2 separate regions of the Homo sapiens genome follow, and region 2 is linked to region 1. Evidence: fine-mapped expression QTL. A gene starts in region 1. The other region holds a variant in brackets. All regions are shown on one strand. Distances are between the middles of the regions. Region 1 holds the start of CEND1 (cell cycle exit and neuronal differentiation 1). Region 2 overlaps LOC124902609 (a long non-coding RNA gene).

The links. PIP is the estimated chance that this variant, and not a neighbour inherited with it, causes the effect. A credible set is the group of variants that fine-mapping cannot tell apart.
Region 2: its variant is the best candidate, but not a certain one, in a credible set for the expression of CEND1 in CD4 T cells (Kasela 2017, PIP 0.65).

The regions. Positions count from the first base shown.
Region 1 is chr11:787,015-792,378 of GRCh38, reverse strand. CEND1 (cell cycle exit and neuronal differentiation 1) reads left to right here and starts at 2,289. Exons shown (of 2, transcript NM_016564.4): 1 at 2,289-2,349; 2 at 3,721-5,264. The coding sequence starts at 3,803. The coding sequence ends at 4,252. It overlaps SLC25A22 (solute carrier family 25 member 22), which reads left to right. Exons shown (of 10, transcript NM_001191061.2): 8 at 1-75; 9 at 162-237; 10 at 311-1,904. The coding sequence ends at 464. RefSeq lists a silencer at 2,149-2,378.
Region 2 is chr11:1,654,503-1,659,866 of GRCh38, reverse strand. It overlaps LOC124902609 (a long non-coding RNA gene), which reads left to right. Exons shown (of 2, transcript XR_007062547.1): 2 at 1-38. Among named protein-coding and RNA genes, the nearest start is that of FAM99A, 8.4 kb to the left of the region's middle. RefSeq lists an enhancer at 4,450-5,054. The variant G/A (reference allele first, on the strand shown) is at 2,072.

The sequences.
Region 1 (5,364 bases):
CGCCTTTCTACGTGTCCTTCCTGGCCGGCTGTGTGGCTGGGAGTGCCGCCGCTGTGGCCGTCAACCCCTGTGATGGTCAGTGCATGGGATGGCGCCCGGCTGGGGATGGGGCGGGACTGAGCCCTTGGCCAGGCTCACACTGACCCGAGCGCCCCTTGCAGTGGTGAAGACGCGGCTCCAGTCACTTCAGCGAGGCGTCAACGAGGACACCTACTCTGGGATCCTGGACTGTGCCAGGTGGGGAGGTCCCACGGCGGGTGGGGCCTGGGGGCCTGCGTACCGGGCTGACCCTTTCGTCCTTCCTCCACAGGAAGATCCTGCGGCACGAGGGCCCCTCGGCCTTCCTGAAGGGCGCCTACTGCCGCGCGCTGGTCATCGCGCCCCTTTTCGGCATCGCACAGGTGGTCTACTTCCTGGGCATCGCGGAGTCCCTGCTGGGGCTGCTGCAGGACCCCCAGGCCTGAGCCCAGCACCCGCTCCACCCCAGCCAGCTGGGCAGGGCCGGTGTGGGGCTGGAGCCAGGCAGCTAGCCCAGGACGGAGCAAGGGAAGACCCCTCCCCAGCCCTCCCGTCGGCAGGGGCAGCAGGGGGCAGGGTGCAGGGTCCACATAGGTGGTGCACACGCAAGCCCCCCGGGGTGCTGCCTGCACCGTTGGGATCAATGTCTCATTTATGTAGAAAATGCAGAAATCTTTACATTCCTCAAGCTAGCCCCTGCCCCAATCCTGCCCTGGCCTGAACACCCCCAGGGACAGAGCTGGTCTCTGGGCTGGGGGCCCCCGGGCCTGGGCCGGGCAGGCTGGACCATACCCCCAGTCCACCAGCTCCAGTCTCCACAGCCATCCTGGCCCACACAGGCACCCCACACAAACCTATTTATTGAATCTGCTGGACCCAAGCGGCTCTCCAGCCCTTCCGTCCTTCCCCAGCCGCTCTTGTCGCCTTGGCAGGACTTGACTCTGCCTCCCTGGCCAGCCTTGCAAGAGGACTGGGGTCTCCTGCCCTCTCTGTTGAGCCAGGAATCCCAAGTGAGGGGTTGCCCTGAGGTCTGACTCTTGGGGCAAGCCCGCCACCCACTGTGGGACTTTCTGGTGGGCTCCTCAGCTCCCACCCCAGGCTGGGGCCCAGATTGTGAGGTCTGTGTGCATGTGTGTGTGTATGTGTGTGTGCATGCGTGTGTGTGTTGTGGGGATCTGGCCTGGCCCTTGGGGATGGGGCTGCTGGGGACTGCCCCCCTTCCCGCCGTGGCCAGGCGCTCTGTGTGCTGTGTGTGCCCCAGGCTCTGTTGACCCCGTCCAGGAACTAACTTACCCAGCTTGGTCTCTCCTGAGTCCTCCACCCTGGCCTGGGATTGGCCAGGGAGCAGGGCGGGCATTGGGACCAGTGTGGAGCCTGAGGGTGCCTGCCCTGCTCTGGAGGGAGGGCCAGGAGCTGCCACACCCCCAAGTCCTCTCAGGGCCCACCCTCCTTTTTCAGCCTCTGCATAAGGCCCCTGGGTACACTGCAGAAGCCCCATCCTTCCCGCCTCCGGGCATAAGGCCCCTGACCACACTTCAGAAGCCCCATCCCCCCTGCCACCGGGCGATCCCTGCTGTGAGCCGAAGCTCTCCCTGCCCCGCCCTGGCCATGTGATCGTGTTGGTGACAGACCCTGATGTGCTGGTGCTGTGTCCCCAAAACCGGGGCCCTCCACAGAGGCCCCTTCCCAGCGACACTACCTGGGGCTCAGGCCTGGACCCCCCCAGTTCACGGTTGCTCCTGGGAGCTGCCCCTCCCGTCACATCAGAACCTTGGAAGCTGCTGCTGCTGCTTACAGAATTATATTTTTTTCTTTTGAAGAGTTTTAAGAAGTTGTAACTTTTTGTGTCTTGTCATGTCAGAGAATAAATAAATATTCTAAGTAGATGCTGCTGTCTGTCTGGGGGTCTGTTTGGGGGCGGGGGAGGGCAGTCCCCTCTTCCCATAACTGGCTCCCTTCAGACTGCAGGGCTAGGCCTGCGCACCCACCCACCGACCCCTCACCCACCGACCCGTCACCCACCGACCAAGGGGCACCCTGGCCTAGAGGGGATGCTGAGCGGGACCCGCCTCCTGCCTCTGGCAGTCCCAGATGGGACTTGGACCCCGCAGTTGCTCTCTCGGACCCTAAGTTTCTACCCCTGGATCTAAGGCGGAGCTGGGTTTGCGGATCCCACGGTTCCCGGCGGGGCGGGGCCCGGTCGCCCCTCCCCCTCCCCGCCCTCCTGCGCCGGGAGCAGTGCATTGTGGGAAACTCCCGAGCTCTCCTCCGCGTTCGCAGCCGCCGTCATCCCGCGGAGGAGCGCGCAGCCCCGGGGAGGCCGGAGGACGCGTAAGGCGGGGGGCTCCCGGCGGGCGGGGCGGGCGGGGCGGGCGCGGCGTCCTGCGGGGCGAGGAGGCGGCTCCGGGCCTTGAAGGTCACTGGGTTTGCGCGCGGGCCCCCCAGTTCTCCAGGGCTCAGTTGATCCCGGGAGAGGGAGGCGGCGGCCGGGATGTAAGTGCCACAAATAGCGAGGTTGGGGGGGCAGACCACCTGCTCTTTGCAAACTTGATGCCCAGCAGCTGAGCCCCCCGAGAACTGCAGGGGTGAAGGGACGGCTGGGCTTCCCTGGGAGGTGGCAGCAGCTGGGCCTCTTCTGGAGACGCCCTCATCATGCTGTGACCTTCGGGTGACCTTCAGTGTGGTCAATGCACCTGGCGGGGGGTGGGGAACGTGCCTCCCTTTCTCTGCAGGTCTGGAGGGCATTTCTCATCCTTCCCTGGGAGAGGCAGACAGGCGGCCTCTGGGGCTTTGGGGCAAGACCCACTCAGGTTCAGGGCGGCTGGGCCCCCAGGGCCCTTCCCACCTCTGCCTCGGTCATTGAGAATCTGGGCACCGCCTTTCCCACAGCCCAGAACCCTGTCCTCCGCCCTGACCCGCGGGCCAAGTGCAGCATGTGCCCACCCTGTTTAACGCCAGGAACCCTCTGCCCACAGAGACAGCACAGCCTTGGGCTGGGCGAGGACTCCCTGCTCCAGGGCTGGAGGCAGGCACGGCCCATGCTGAGGAGGGGGCCCCAGAGGCTGGGGAGGGGCAGACGGCCCTTGGAAGCACAGCCCCACGCTGACTTCCTGGAGAGACACCCCAGTTTTCTCAAGTCTGGGTTCTTGTGGGCCCACCCACCCTGATGGCTGCCTGAGATCCCAGCTCCTGCCCCTCCCCGCCCTCCTCCCCCTGGGACCCTGGCCAGGTCACAGCCTCCGTGCTTTAGTGTCCATCTCTGCAAAGCAGGAATGCTCTCCTGAGGAGGGGATGCAGTCAGCTCTCCCACTGGGGCTCCGATCACCTCCTTGGAGGGGAGAATGCTCTTCCTTCGAGTTCTCTGGGCCTGATCCTTACTTCCCCACCAAGAGCCTCCTGCCCCCGGCTGGTGGGAGGATGTGGCATTTGCATGGGCCATTTTATGGAGCACAGTGGGGTCCCCTACCTCCTCCCACCTGTGCGTGGCCCTTGCCTCTGCGGCTGGAGGGGCCCCTTGAGGAGTGGTCATGGACAGATGGAGTCCAGGCCGTGAAAGAGAAGTGTCAGAGGCCCACGGGAGGCCCCTGAGCTGGGGCTCCAGAGAGTCCAGAGAACTGGGCAGGGGCTGCCTGGGGACCAGGTGGTCGGGGCAGCACAGGGGGGACTGGACCCGCGCGCAGCCTCCCTTGTGTCTCCCTCCAGGCCCATAGAATGCCCAGGGGCGACAAACTGTCCTGAGCCCCTCTGGTGCAGCCACCTGCCTGTCCCATACGCCCCGCCCACCATGGAGTCCAGAGGGAAGTCAGCCAGCAGCCCCAAGCCCGACACCAAGGTGCCCCAGGTCACCACCGAGGCCAAGGTACCCCCGGCAGCCGATGGGAAAGCCCCCTTGACCAAGCCCTCGAAGAAGGAGGCCCCGGCCGAGAAGCAGCAGCCGCCAGCAGCCCCCACCACGGCACCTGCCAAGAAGACCTCGGCCAAGGCCGACCCTGCCCTTCTCAACAACCACAGCAACCTGAAGCCAGCCCCCACGGTCCCCAGCAGTCCCGATGCAACCCCGGAGCCCAAGGGTCCTGGGGACGGGGCGGAGGAAGATGAGGCTGCCAGTGGGGGGCCTGGGGGCCGAGGTCCCTGGTCCTGTGAGAACTTCAACCCCCTGCTGGTGGCTGGGGGTGTGGCCGTGGCAGCCATAGCCCTGATTCTCGGTGTGGCCTTCCTGGTCCGGAAAAAATAATACCTGGGGGCCAGGCGGGGGGCACGGAGCCACTTCCTGTACAGACCCGAGGAAGCCAGTGCATGCAGAGTTCACCCTTACCTATTCGTACACACGCACATTCATTACACACCTACATACGCCCCCAACACACGCGCACGGTGAAGAGGACGCCCGAGCCCACCCCTGCTGACCCAGGACTTCCCCAACCTCCAGGGCAGAAAGAGCCCAGGCTCCGGGGTCCACAGCACAGGATGTGGGGCGAGGGCACAGCTGGGGAACGGCAAGAAAGGAATGGACCCTGTGTGTGGCCCCCCCCACCCCTGGCGGCTGGGTGATCCTGGGCCCCCAGGGCTGGTCTGAGTGCAGGTGGGGGTGCCGGGATGGGTTGGGCCTGGGCCCGGCCCTCGTGGGGACATTAAAGGGCGCGGTGGCTCCACTCGCCCCATTTCTGCTCTTTGCGTACCCCCCGGGGGTCTGCCTGGGCGAATGCAGTGGGACGGACCTGGGGTGGGCACTCACCTCAGCAGAGCCTCAATGCCACCTCCCCACACCACCCAAGCCTAGCTGGGTGGGAAGACGGAGCCCTGAAGCCTGCGTGTGGAGGGGGTGCTGCCCAAGGGTCGCCTTCCCCAGCTTGTGCTCCAGGGGAGCCCCGACGCCGGCGGGGAGGCAGGGATGTCGAGGGCCCCTCACAGCTGTGCCCGCCCTGCCCCGCTAGACTGCCCCTCCAGCTTGCACCCAGCACCACCTGAGTCTAACCAGCGTATAATGCAATAACAGGTAGAGTAGAACTGCTTTTGGCGGCGACCGTCACACACTGTCCTCAGCCCACTGCACCTGGGGAAGCCCCTCGTGCAGCCCCTCCTTAGCACATCCAGTCCCAGCGTGGCCCTTGGCGCGCAGCAGCAGGCGAACTCCCAGAAGGTGGTGGTGGGCACTGTGAGAACGTGGCCTGCCCTCACTGGCCAGTGGCCACAGGAACCCCGGGCCTGAGTGGAGGCTGAGTCTGAAATAAACTCTGTCGTCTGAAGGCTGCTCTTGCATCCTCATCTGCATGTGGCTGGGAGACGCAGGGTCGCATGTGTCACGCCCACACCCCAGGCTTTCCAGGGAGGGATGCTGCATCCAGG
Region 2 (5,364 bases), 870 kb before region 1:
TCTCCACATGTCATCTTAAATAAAGTTAGTTAATTCCATGCCTGTGGTTCTGAACCTCCTTTGTCTAATTGCTTCTGGTAATTCCATCCTCCAGCCGCCGCGGCAGGGGAACATTAAGTGGGGCTACCAGGTTTTGTGGGTGTTGTTTTTGTCCTGGGTGCCAGTCCGCGCATGAACAATGTCCTTATCTGATGGGAAGGGGCTGCTGCAGCCACAAGCACAGGCCCCCGCCCCGCAGACAACGCGGCTTCCTTTTCCTGACTACACTCGACCGGAACACACCAAACACCAGACACCTGCTCTCCGTTTGTGAAATGCTCAGCTCTTCTTTTCTATTTCTTTAATTTATGTTTTTTGGGTTTTTGTGGTTGTTGTTGTTTTTGAGACGGAGTCTCGCTCTGTCGCCCAGGCTGGAGTGCAGTGGCGCGATCTCGGCTCACTGCAAGCTCCACCTCCCGGGTTCACACCATCCTCCTGCTTCAGCCTCCTGAGTTGCTGGGAATACAGGCGCCCGCCACCACGCCCGGCTAATTTTTTGTATTTTTAGTAGAGACAGCGTTTCACTGTGTTCTCCAGGATGGTCTCAATCTCCCAACCTTGTGATCCACACACCTCGGCCTCCCAAAGTGCTGGGATTACAGGTGTGAGCCACCGAGTCTGGCCTAATTTATGTTTTTATCTTTACCAACTTCTTTCTTTAAAAAAAGTATGGTTAGAAATTTTGGTTTTCATTTTTCTAGACATTATTTTTACCTAAAAGAAAGGCCCACAATAGGCATGCATCTTTTTCAACTTTATTTATTTTATTTTCTTCAATGGATTACTTCCTTTAATTATAAAAGGAATACCCGACCATTCTTACTGGGTAAACAATAGGGGGTACAAAAATTAAAAGCGAAAAACTTCCCCCAACCCCTTCTCGTCCTGATCCTTCCGCTGTCAGTGTGAACACCTCTTAGTGTCTGTTTCACCCACTGTCTGTGCTCATGCTCATAAACCTGCAGATTTCTTTCTTATTTTTTTTTCTTTTTTTTTTGAGGCGGAGTCTTGCTCTGTCACCCAGGCTGGAGTGCAGTGGCACGATCTCAGCTCACTGCAACCTCCGCCTCCCGGGTTCACGCCATTCTCCTGCCTCAGCCTCCCGAGTAGCTGGGACTACAGGTGCCCGCCACCACACCTGGCTAATTTTTTGGATTTTTAGTAGAGACGGGGTTTCACCGTATTAGCCAGGATGGTCTCGATCTCCTGACCTCGTGATCCGCCCACCTCGGCCTCCCAAAGTGCTGGGATTACAGGCTTGAGCCACCGCGCCCAGCCTAACATGGGACGGTTGTAACATCAATATGTATATGCACCTCCTTTTTTCCATCAGCTTCCACGGTTACGTTGGATCGTCGTGAATTCGGCGGTCACCTGTTGATGGAGATCTCAGCATTTCACGTCGTGTGTTTGGCATCGTTTTGTTGTTTCTGTGACACTGAAGGCAGTGCCAGTGCCCTTGTTCATGCACCTTGTGGTGACAGGGCGCAATTCAGACTAAGGCCCAAAACAAGATGGAAGAGCCACAGGGTATTTACATTCTGAACTTAAAAGATGAAGACAAAATCTTTGTAGAAATATGGGCTGGGTGCCGTGACTGATGCCTGGAATCCCAGCACTTTGGGAGGCCGAGGTGGGTGGATCACGAGGTCGGGAGTTCGAGACCAGCCTGGCCAACATGATGAACTCTTGTCTCCACTAAAAATGCAAAAATTAGCCAGGCATGGTGGCGGGCGCCTGTAATCCCAGCTACTTCGGAGGCTGGGACAGGAGAATTGCTTGAACCCGGGAGGTGGAGGCTGCAGTGAGCCGAGATGGCACCACCGCACTCTAGCCTGGGCAACACAGTGAGACTCCGTCTCAAAAAAAAGAAAAGAAATATGGGCAAATAATACACACAGGAAACTTATATCTTACAGGAAACACTCATGGCCAATGTGCATGCAAGAAAGTTAGCAGCCATCACACAAATGCAAAGAAAAACAAAAATGAGGGGCAGTTTCTTCAGGGCTGGTGAGGGGCGGGGAAGGGC[G/A]CCACCAGTCACAGCCGCTAGGGCGACCCACTCACTCCCGGAGACTGCCTTTTTAAAATGATTCTTAGCATTGAAAGCCCTGCATCCCTGGAAATCTCTCATACTTGGGCAGACCGGGCCACTCAAGTGGCTGAGGAACATTCAAACCTTTCTGTTTTGTTTTGAGATGGAGTCTCGCTCTGTCGCCCAGGCTGGATTACAGTGGTGCAATCTCGGCTCACTGCAACCTCCATCTCCTGGGTTCAAGCGATTCTCCTGCCTCAGCCTCCCAAGAAGCTGGGAGTACAGGCATGAGCCATCACACCCGGCTAATTTTGTTTTTGTTTTTTTTTTGTTTTTTTTGGGGGGGGTCTTTAGTAGAAACGGAGTTTCACTATATTGGCCAGGCTGGTCTTGAACTCCTGATCTCAAGTGATTTGCCTGCCTCAGCCTCTCAAGCGCTGGGATTACAGGTGTGAGCCACTGTTCCCGGCCCTATTCAAACCTTTCTCAAGGCATATGTCAGCAACAAGCCCAGACCCCAGCAGCACTCACCTCACCAGCAGGACACCCCACTCAGGCAGGCTGCAATTTTCTTCCTTTCTTTCCTTTCTTTTTTCTTTCTTTCTTTCTTTCCTTCTTTTCTTTTTTTTTTTTTTTTTGAGATGGAGTCTCGCTCTGTCACCCAGGCTGGAGTGCAGTGGCACCATCTCGGCTCACTGCAACCTCCTCCTCCCGGGTTCAAGTGATTCTCCTGCCTCAGCCTCCCAAGCAGTTGGGACTACAGACAATTGCCACCATGGCCAGATAATTTTGTGTTTCTGATAGAGATGGGGTTTCACCATGTTGGCCAGGCTGGTCTCTAACTCCTGACTTCAGGTGATCTGCCCACCTCAACCTCCCAAAGTGCTGGGATTCCATATGTGAGCCACCATGCCCGGCCAGGCTGCAATTTCCCTACATGGCCTGTGTTATTCTGTGATCCTCCTGCGGTGGCTAGAACCAAAATAAATGATGGGGGTGACGGGGACCACGTTAGTTCTCATTCGAATGACAGTGGTTTGCATTTCATATGTTAAGGTCGTGTTCACCACTGGCTCCTGAGAAGCACGATTCCTCATGTTTGAGCAGTTTCCTCCCATCTCTCTTTGGCTTTGGGTTTTGCCATGAGTGGCTTTGGAGTTTTGTCAAGGGCATCTTGGGCACCTATAGAGAAGGTTTGCTATTTTATTTGGTTTTCTGGCAGCTGATCATCTTTCCGGCTAGCACCCTTGTTTCTTTGGGGGAAAACACTTCATGTGTATAGTTTTTGTTACATGAGTATTTTCCTTCCACCACTAAAGGCGAAGAAGCACAGTCCCCCGGCCCCCAGCAGCAGAAGGCAGGTGAGCACGGCAGCCAGCCCCACTTGACAGCCAGCCCTGCTCAGCGTCCCGGATGTGCAGGAGACTGGGACCCTGAACAAGGCTGCTGCCAGGGCAGCATCTGAGTGGGTGCCAGGCATGCTCCTGGCTTCCCCAGACAGCTGTGGTCTTTTACTGGTATAACTCTGCCTAAATCATCCAGGGCCTGTGGACGCTGACCCATGGGGTTGAAGGACACTGCGGCCCCCTCCCAGTCAGAGTGGAAGTGTGTGGAGAGCAGACGACTGCCTGGATTTCAATGCAAACCGCTCAGGGCAGAACTTGCATGGACTCTACAGCTGGCCTGCAGCTGTCCCCTCGGGCACTGGACAAAGTGTCTGCACGAATGTCCTCAGTGACCACAAACCTCTGTGTTGGCTGCATGGACCCACAGCTAGAAGCGGCGAGGTGGGTCCTGCAGCTGTCAGTCCATCCCCGACAGGCGCGTGAGAAATGGCACCTCTTCCAGACTCCCAGGAACCATTCTACACCAGGGACTGGGGGTCCAGAGGCTTCCGTCCCACCCATTGCAGCCCCCCAGGTCTAACAGCACAGATCGCCCACACCTGGGTATAGGAATGACAATAGTGGAGTTGGATCAGGACTCCAGCAGCTACCGCTCCGGGACAGTTGGCTTGCTGGAGCAAATCATTGCGGTGTCTGGTGTCTGCCGGGGGGCTGAGATCTGGGCTGTGTTTGTCCCTATCCAAACAGACAGAACATTAGAATGAGGTTGTCTTTACTGCGTATCCCTGATGTTCGGGAGCCTGTGTGGGCGAGCCGTCACCTCCTGGCACTGCCTCAAGGCGGCACCACCTTGCAGGGTGCCCTGCTGGTCCAGCATGCGGGAGCCCTGGCACCCATCAACCCCAGAATGAGGCACAGCGGGCAGCTGGGGATAGAGCCCGTGGCATCCCAGAGGGTGCTGCCCAGGCATGTCCTGGCACTCTTCTACCTGGATGCCCATGCCACTCAGAGAGGGGCACCATGACTGGCTGTCCTGCTCGAGGAAGGAGGTACCCCAGCAGCACCTCATTCTGTGGTTGGGACGCATTTCCCTGGGATCCAAGGGGCTGTCAGCCCTGGGGGAGGCCCAGGTGAAGGAGCCCACTCGTGGGCCCGGCCCGCAGTGCCCCCACTGTCCCTGGAGGCCCCCTGTGCTCCAGGTGGCCCGGCAGGCTCACGCTCCACAGGGAGCTTCAGGAAGCCCCAGGAGATGAGTATGCAGGGCCCAGGGCCTTGGAGCACAGCCAGGCCTTCTCCATCCACTGAGGAACACTTCTTCCTTTGACTACAAACAATCCCTACTTTCTCCTAAATTTCTGTGGGAAAATAAACTCTTGAGTACGTGACACCAAGTGGCATGAGGCCCCACAGGGTGCACCAGACCCGAAGCCGCGGGTTCCAGGGGGCTCCTGATGCAGGAGGAATGTGACAGTGGAGAAGGCGTGTGCTCCTCAAGGAAGAAGGGGACGGGAATGGGAACAGAGGCACACGCAGGCCACAGCCCCCTACCCCCTGCCCAGCCTCAGGCCTGTCTGTGGACAGCTGCATCCGCCCGGATAACCCAGGCCCTGCTGCGGTCACAGGGAGCCCTGAAATCACAAGGCTGTTATCTTAGTTTATGTTTCCTCAAAAACAGACACTGAGCCAAAGGCTGGAGGGCAAAGCTCACGGGTTGGGGGCGGATTCGGGGAAGCGCAGGGAAGAGGGAGGAGGAGGCCAAGGAGGCCTCAGTGCAGGAACAGCTGCTGGGGACCCTCTGCAAGGCTGCAGGGGACGCCATGGTGTCCTCTGAGTTATTTCTCTTTCATTAGTACAGATTGCCCCTAGAAGGGCATTAGCCTCCCTGACTCCAGCCTTCCCCACAGGCTGGACTCCATGCTGGTGTCCACAGGTGACCTCGAGGTG